Linked DNA regions of Homo sapiens. The protein of the gene in region 2 purifies or fractionates together with the protein of the main gene of each other region. This does not show direct contact. Each region holds a gene or a part of one and is shown on either strand. Other genes may lie near its edges.

The links. The genes of interacting proteins can lie anywhere in the genome.
Region 1: the proteins of SYNGR1 (region 2) and TMEM87A purify together in Homo sapiens (affinity purification with mass spectrometry; one large-scale study listed by BioGRID and IntAct). This does not show direct contact.

Annotation. Positions count from the first base shown.
Region 1 is NC_000015.10:42,227,451-42,231,933, reverse strand, and holds part of TMEM87A (transmembrane protein 87A isoform 1 precursor), read left to right. Parts: intron 1-18; coding exon of another isoform or gene 19-90; intron 91-673; coding exon 674-742; exon of another isoform or gene 743-812; intron 813-3,113; coding exon 3,114-3,222; intron 3,223-4,164; coding exon 4,165-4,223; intron 4,224-4,483. UniProt on the Homo sapiens protein: Potential monoatomic ion channel gated by mechanical force, implicated in normal touch sensitivity through the generation of mechanically activated currents.
Region 2 is NC_000022.11:39,382,430-39,386,939, reverse strand, and holds the end of SYNGR1 (synaptogyrin-1), read right to left. Parts: 3' UTR 1,365-4,510; downstream 1-1,364. UniProt on the Homo sapiens protein: May play a role in regulated exocytosis. Modulates the localization of synaptophysin/SYP into synaptic-like microvesicles and may therefore play a role in synaptic-like microvesicle formation and/or maturation.

The DNA of each region.
Region 1 (4,483 bases), on a different chromosome or scaffold from region 2:
CTTCTGCTGTTGCTATAGTATTTTTCTTATCCCTTGACTCTGATAGTAAACCTGGCCCTCTCAGCAATTGACGCCTGTGTTATTTTATGGATATCCTTTCAGTAATGCCTGTTGATTGGGTAATTAGGGTTATATAAAAAACATACTCTATATAAACTCCTGGAAACATGCAGCATAGTTTTTCAGACAGATAATTGCCTTACATTTTATTTTGGGGTGAGCTCTTATTTGTAAAATATTATAATTTTAGAAATTAATAATTCTTTGTATATGATGCAGTAATTTTTTTTAAATACGAGAAAAGTCTTTTCAGACTTGTAGCCAAAATTGCAATAATAGGAAATGATAGATTAAGGATGGGGCTTATAAACATTAGAACTTTTTTGGAATATGGTCACTTGTTAACATGGATCTTTATATATGAAAAACTCGTACTTAGCAGTATGTTTCGAGATTGTAAATGACAATTTATGTGAAATGCTTATAGCTGTATATTCTATGTGATGGTTTATAAGAAGGGAAGAATGATTAGGTGTCAAATGTTCTTTTTATTTTCTTTCAGTTCAATGCAAAAACTTTCCAGTGATTATGTAAATGCAGAATCATGTGGTGGTTTCTTCTCTGTGCCTCTCTAGACATCTGTTTTTCACCACTTCTTTTTCTTTGTCTGCAGGCCCAGACTGATCTTGCTTCCTTGGCCTTTATCCCCTTGGCTTTCCTAGACACTGCCTTGTGCTGGTGGATATCCTTCTCATTGGCTTGTTTGATGATGGTCCATTTTCTCCCCTTGAGATGGGTTTCCATTGATCTTTCTGCAAAGAGTTTTTATCAGTTTTGTTAATTACTCCTTAGTGTGGGGAACAGTGCATGCTAAGTCTTAACAACCTGAGGGTTCAGGTAAGCAGTTTTTTTTGTTTCTATTTTTTTAATTTTAAAAATCAAATTGGAAATTGGTGACTGTGGACCGAGCTCGAGATAAAATCTTTTGGCTTTTTTCTTTTAAGTGAGCATTTCATCTTGATTTTGCACTTCTTGTTTGTGTACCTAATCATTTAGTGTTAGAGTCACTGGCTGTGCTGGTCCTGCTCTGCCTTTTAGCCTCTAGCAATTCTTAAATGCTTTGAAACTTATGAAAAGATTTTGATCCTTAAAATTTGATTTCAGGAACTATGTAAGGTGCTTTGACTTTTCTGAAACTCTGTATGTTCAGCAGGTTTTAACCCTTATGGAGTGAGTGTTTTCTTGCCTCATTCAAAAGCTGGCTTGGAATTGTTTGAAGATTTCCACCCTTCAGAATAAATAATTGATTCATTTACAGGCAGAGTCAACCAGCAGATAACAAACAAGCTTCTATTTGAGCAATCTTTTTCTCCTGCTCTTTAAAATTAAATTTATATATTAGGGGCTTGGCCTGATGGCTAAAGGATTCAAGTTTTTGGACTTTATCTTATTGAATTTGTTTTGGTTTTTATATATTTGGTCCTATTAGCAGTTTTCATTATTACTGACCTGATAGATTGTGACTGTTGAAAAACTGTGAATGTAAACAAAATTGTTTTGTGAATTTGAGTGGGTTGCTGTATAAGAGTTTTCAGTTAAAGTGTCCTTGGACTAAATAGCCAAAGCTTTTCTAGATTAGTATCTTTCTAAGTGTTTTGTGAACCTCTGCAAGCGTTGAGAGAAGAGGGAGGTGGGAATGGATTGTACAGTAAGATAACCCAATGACTAGGTAACAGCTACGGCTCTGTAAGGGCAGAGCAAGTGCCAAATCCCTTATTTTTGTATCTGCTTCTCATTCTGAAAATTGAGCCGGGTGCAGTGGCTCATGCCTGTAACCCCAGCACTTTGGGAGGCTGAGATGGGCAGATTGCTTTAAGCTCAGGAGTTTGAGACCAGCCTGGGCAACATGGCGAAGCCCTATCTCTACAAAAAATACAAAAATTCATCAGGCATTGTGGCTTGCACCTGTAGTCCCAGCTGCTCGGGAGCCTGAGGCAGGAGAATTGCTTGAGCCCTGGAAGCGGAGGTTGCAGTGAGCCGAGATCGCACCGCTGCACTCCAGCCTGAGTGACAGAGTGAGACCCTGTCTCAAAAAGAAAAGAACATTGAACGTGAGAGCAGATACCATTTTTAGTAGTCACCAATTCCCCTCCTGTTTTTCTCTGGCAACTTCTACTTGAGAATAATGTTCTGAAAATGGAGAGTCATTGCTTTTGGAAGCAAACCATATGAGCTTCTCAACCAATTGTAAGGTCCTCTTAATTCAGGATAGTGCAGGCAACTGATGGCAGGTTCCTTAAGATGGCATGAGGGGACTGAGTGTAGATCTCTGGGAGATTATAGGCACGAGTATAATTATGACCCTCAACTAGATTTGCTGGACAGATGAGAACAGAGCTACCCACCTTAAAGGGAGAGAGAAGATGATGTTAACTCTTTGTCCCTTGCCTGTTACTCATGTTCACTTTATCTTCTGCCATTTCTCTATTTATTTTCTGTCTTTTTTTTTTGTTTCTCTAGAAAGCCTCTTCCTTTCTCTTTTTTATATTTTTTCTCTTGTGATTTTGTACATTCTTACTTTATTCTGGTTCTGTCTTCTCTTTAATGTCTCATTGAAAATGATGACTTCCGGCCAGGTATGGTGGCTCGTGCCTGTAATGCCAGCACTTTGGGAGGCCAAGGCAGGAGGATCAGTTGAGGTCAGGAGTTTAAGACCAGCCTGAGCAACATAGCGAGACCTTATCTCTACAAAAAAATTTAAAAATTAGCCAGGCATGGTGGCACATGCCTGTAGTCCCAGCTGCTTGGGAGGCTGAGGTGGGAGGATCGCTTGAGCTTCAGTGGTCAAGGCTGCAGTGAGCCGTGATTGTGCCACTGCACTCTAGCCTGGGCTAGACCTTGCCTCACAAAAAAAAAAGGAAAAGAAAATAAAATGATGACTTTCTTATTCATCTTGAGGTGTTTGTGAGATTAAGTGAGAATAAGAGAGCTATAAGGCCTCTGAGAGATCTATAAGTTTATTGGCATGACCCCAGATCCTTAAAGAAACCTGAAAACTAATTGGCTAGCTTACTGTTTTTTCCTGAATGTTGAATTCCTTGACCTGCAAACACATATTTATTAGCCTGACTCAAACAATGAAGCTATTAAAACTTCGGAGGAACATTGTAAAACTCTCTTTGTATCGGCATTTCACCAACACGCTTATTTTGGCAGTGGCAGGTAAGTCTGGGACTTTCTTCTTGGAGTTCAAATGTGATCTGTTTAGAATGGACATTCTTAACCTGAAAGGCCATGGGTGGACATAGAAAGTTTTGTATATTTCACTTGGAAAAGGGTTCTTAGCTCTTGTCAAATTCTCAGAAGGATCTGTGGTTTTTAAAAAGTTGAGAACCATTTATTTTATGTACAGTAGCTGGAAATCAACCTCATATTTCAGCTCTTCATTTATCCCTCTTCTATTTGCATTCTTTCTTGAGGCATTCTTTTTCTTGAGGTTAGTTAGCTTAAGTGCCAGAGAGTACTCCTTTTAGAAGACATTACCACATGTTTGTTTAGTTTTATTAAATAGTTGTAGAATTTTAGGGTGCATTGCTATTATAGTGGTTTTACATATGTCAGCAAGCATATGTAAAAAATTGACATTAGGTGGACTGTAACCAAACTAGGCTAATTTGCCTACCTCCTGACCCTTGTACCAGGAATAGTGAGGTCTGATTTATGATTGGAACTAGCTCTTCTGTTTGTGTTACAGTCGTTTTATCAGCCATTTTTTTTCATCTGACCAGCCAAAGAAAAATTAGCATTACTATACTAAGGATAAAAGGAGAAAAAAATTATATTGATAATGCTGGAAAGAGCTATATTTCCAATACCTTATTTTCCAACCACACTGGTTACTGATGTAGCCAGATGGCAAATAACATTATTACCAAATTATTCTTTAAATAGAGAAAGGATTGGCCAGAGTATGTATCATGAGCCTTGCTGATAGCAGGTATACAGTCCTTTTGTATTGAATACATTTGTTAAAATAACTGATAGAGTTGTGATGTATTTGGGGGTTCGGGGTGTGTGGGATTCCACTTAACCGGAAATGGGGGAATGTAATTGGGGATGTAAACCAGCATTCATACTCTGACCTGGTTTTTCATTTACTGTTAGCATCCATTGTGTTTATCATCTGGACAACCATGAAGTTCAGAATAGTGACATGTCAGTCGGTGAGTTATAAGCACATTTATGAATAATGTACTGTCTTATAAACAACTGATGGTGTTGATGACAGTGGTAAGGTTCTTCTAAGTTATATACCTTATAAAAAATTAGAGCTAGGTCTCTACTCTGAGGGTTGTGATACTTCCCTCCTCCTAAGTATTCTGTACTATCATGGTGCTTGGTATAGTAGTTTTTTGTTTGTTTTTTCTGACTGTATTCTCCCAGTTTTGGGAGAGAATTTTGTAAGTTATAACTACAGTGTGCT
Region 2 (4,510 bases):
CACTGCAACCTCTGCCTCTCGAGTTCAAGCGATTCTCCTGCCTCAGCCTCCAGAGTAGCTGGGACTAGAGGTGCTGGCCACCACACCCAGCTAATTTTTTTTTTTTTTTTTTTTTTTAGATGGAGTTTTGCTCTTGTTGCTCAGGCCTGGAGTGCAATGGCATGATCTTGGCTCACTATAACCTCCACCTCCTGGATTCAAGCAATTCTCCTGGCTCAGCCTCCCGAGTAGCTGGGATCACAGGCACGTGCCACCACGCCTGGCTAATTTTGTATTTTTAGTAGAGACGAGGTTTCTCCATTTTGGTCAGGCTGTTCTCAAACTCCCGACCTCAGGTGATCTGCCCACCTCAGCCTCCCAAAGTGCTGGGATTACAGGTGTGAGTCACCACGCCCAGCCACGCCCAGCTAATTTTGTCTTTTTAGTAGAGACGGAGTTTTACCATGTTGGCCAGGATGGTCTCAGTCTCTTGACCTCGTGATCCGCCCGCCTAGGCTGCCCAAAGTGCTAGGATTATAGGTGTGAGCCACTGTGCCCAGGTTTTTTGTTTTGTTTTGTTTAGACACGGGGTCTCACTATGTTGACCAGGCTGGTCTTGAACTCCTGGGCTCAAGCAATCCTTCCACCTTGACTTCCCAAAGTGCTGGGATTACAGGCATGAGCCATGGCACCCAGCTGAAGGCCAGTCAATTTAAAAACCATGTCTTGTAAAACATGTGTATGTAAAAGCATGGAAATGGTCTGGAAGGAATGAGGCCAAGCATCTAATCTTGTTTACTCCTGGTGGTTGGGGAAGGAACCAGGATAGGAAATGGTGATGGGGCATGTATGTGGACATGTGCACATGTAAGCTAAGAGACTCTGGCTTCAACTGTAATAATTTTCCTTTTTTTTTTTAGATGGATTTTTGCTCTTGATGCCAAGGCTGGAGTGCAATGGCACAATCTTGGCTCACTGCAACCTCTGCCTCCCCGGTTCAAGTGATTCTCCTGTCTCAGCCTCCCGAGTAGCTGGGATTACAGGCGTCTGCCACCACACCCGGCTAATTTTTTTTTTTTTTTGTATTTTTAGTAGAGACAGGTTTTCACCATGTCGGTCAGGCTGGTCTCGAACTCCTAACCTCAGGTGATCCACCCACCTTGGCCTCCCAAAGTGTTGGGATTACAGGCATGAGCCACTGCAGTCGGCCAATTTTACTTTTTAAAAAGATAATATATTCATAGGTTCATTGTGTAATGAAAAATTAACAAACAATAATAACCAAGTAAGACATGGCCTGTCTAAGGAGACAAACGGGATGGAGCATCCAAGCCAAACGCAGAATGAAGAACAAAGAAACACGGTGACACACTTGCAATCGCTGGTGGGTTCTGAGTCTTCACTTTATTACTATGTCACCAGAAGTCACCACCTTCACTTGGTTCACCACAGATGGATGGATGTCATAAAGGAGGGTGCCACGGGGCCACTGGATTCACTCGAGACTTAACCAGGTGGTGGGGGGGTCTAGAGTGGGGGCCCAGGATGGGGACCGCCCTTCACCGCACACACACGCACACACACACACAGATATATTTGTGGAGCCTTATATTATACATCTTATATATAGAAAATATATATATTTATACTATACACAGGCAGTAACGCTGCGGGAGGGGCCGGGGCACCGACAAGGGCTGTGCGCACCAGGACATGGGGAGTGTCAGGTCAAGTGCATCGCTGGGAGGCAGCCGGCCCAGTCCCTTCTCCCATAAACTCCTGGGAGGGGCATTCCCCCTTTCGTGCTCCTTAGAGAATCAAAGGGGTCTTGGGCCAAGGTTAGGGGTCTCCCAGGGCTAACAGGCAGGGTGTCTCAGTTACATGGGGAAACCTGGGATCCCCGAGGCTTTGAAGATCAAGAATCACCAGGGAAGGATGGAGTAGGGAACTAACGTCAGTCCCCTGGGAATTAGCCCCTCAACTGCGACACCCCCAGGTGGATAGGAGCCGTGCAGGCAGGACAGTCTGTGACTGCCCAGGATGAGCCAACTCAGAAGGCAGAAGACCTGACTCCTGAACCTCTCCCTCTGTGCTTGACCTTGGACAAGTCGCTGTCTCCCTACCCCAGACTCTGCCGACTCTAAGCGTCCTTGCGACTCTACACTTATGTGAAACCTTTTTTCCTGGGCCCTCTCTTGTGCTTGATGGGGAGGAGGGAGCCACCCTGCAGGGTCCAGCTGCAGGAGGGCCCTTCTCCAAGGAAAGCTTTGGGAGCAAGGGAGAAGTAGGGGAGGGCAGCTGGGAGGAAAAGGGATACCGGACAGAGTTGGGCCTGGGGTTCCCCAGGGGCTGTCCTCTGCCAACAGAAGGAGCGAGTTTCCCCATGAACCTTCCAGGGCAGAGTCAGGAGCCCTGGGTCCCATCCAAATCTCGCCCTCCATCTCTCACCCTCTCTCATCTCCATCCTGGGCAGGTCCCTGCCAGAGCCCAGCCTGATGGGGAAGATCATGCCTGGAAGGGCTTCTGGGCTGAACCCGGGAAGAGTGAGGGATTCTTCGTGAGATGACTCAGCACCCCCCATTCCTGGCAGGAGTCTTGACAGCTTTCCCTGCCTAGGGTGGCAGGCAGGGCCTGTCACAAACACCCAAGATGGAGTTAAGCTTACCTGGTACCCTGCCCTCCGGCTGAGGATCACCAGCAGCTGGCTGGCACCCGAGGAGAAACAGATGGGCAGTACCCTGAGGTCTCCTAGTGCCCATCAGCAGGAGAGGCTTTTGGTGGACAGTGGGTGAGGGTCAGAACATCTCACAGCCTCTTGTGGTGGGCACAGAACTTCACTCTGCCATAAACACTCCTGCCCTCACTCACGCCCTCACCTTTGGCCTGGTACAGGTTTCACTCTTCAGGCCAACAGATAACCTGCCCCCATGCTGGTCCCATGTGGGCCACCTGGCGGCGGGGGACTGTGGACAGAGCCCCTTCTCCGGATTGGAAAATGAAGTCAGCAACAACCAGCTGTCACACAGCTGGCTGGGGTCCTCTCCATCACTGCTGTCCTTTGGGAGGACTTGGACACACCTGAGTTTAGATCCGTGTTCCACTGCCAACTCGCCTATGCTTGCCGAGCCTCAGTTTCCCTTCTGTTAAATGGGGATAATGGTGCTACTTCTCTGCTTAGGACTTCCTCCTCTTTCCCTTAACTCTGGCCCAGCTTTGGGGCCATCGAAGCAGGGACCACCCATGCCCTTGGTATCTCCAGCACAGGGGCCGGGTAACTGCTGAGTGAGTAAGCAGGTGAGGGATCGCCTGCCTCTTAGGATTCTTAGATGGGGGATGGGGGGATGGTGGTGAAAACACCCAGCACTGGGCCCGTCCACCACCTGCTCTGCTCTGCTCCCTGAAGGACAGGCCAGTGGACACTGGGTGGACAGGGGGATGGGCCCCCAGCGCTCTCCCATACCTCCCTGTCCCTTATGGCTCAGTGAAGAGCCCACCTTGTGCAAGAATCGACCTGCCCCCACTCAGAAGAGATTATGACCTCCTCAGGCCCCACGGCCCTCTTTGGGCCTTTGGGTCACCTGCCACACTCTCCCCTACAGCCCATGGTCTTCCCTGGGCCTCCCATGCCTCAGGGGCTCTTGCCTGTGTCATCCTGGGGGCAGTGTCTCTCCACGGCCACAGCCCAGGAGCCGACCTGGCTGATTCCAAAGCCCTGTCCTTGCCGCTCTGCCTCCCATAGGGAGGCTGGCTCCACAGTGGGCCTTCTGGAAGGCCAAGGAAACACCTCTCATGCGCTTGGCTGCTGCAGCCCCCGAACCCTGACTGACCCCAGATGAGAGGAGAGGTGACATAGTGTCCCAGATCAGTTCTGTTTCCTGGGAGGTCACAAGGGCAGGGAATCGAGGCACCTGCTGGGCAGCTGGGGCCAAGAAACCCAGGCGTCAGGGCCAGCTTTGCCACTCACTCACCGTGACCTCGGGCCAGTCACACCCTCATCTGTGCCTTGTTGTCCACCCAGCCCTAGGTAAGGGCTTAGTGACCCCTCCTAGAGGCAAGGACAGTGATCAGTCCTTTGAGAGACCACGAAGGGGTTTGCTGGAGCCCCCTGGAACAAGCGTCTGTGGGACACGCAGAGCACAGAGCAGCACCCGGGGTGAGCCCTCTTGGAGGAGGCCAAGGGCCAGGGGTAGGACCAGGGGGATGTGGGTGGAGGGACCCGGAGGTGGGGCTGTCCCCAGGGGAGGAGGAACAGCTGGGGCAGAACAGGCCCTTGGCATGCAGCAGAATCAGGGTGTCTCAAGGGGCTGAGGGCCCCAAGGCCTCCCAGAATGACAGTAACACTGAGCAGGGAAGCCCCAAGCGTGGGGATGGTAGGAGGTGGGTGGCCAGGGAAGAGCACGTGGTCTGCAGTCGGGCAGCCTGGGCTTGGCCCCACCTCTATCACTAGCTGCCTGAGTGATTCTGGGCAAGTAATCTTGACCTCTCTAGACCTCAGTTTCCTCAACCATAAAATGGAGACGGCCCTGACACT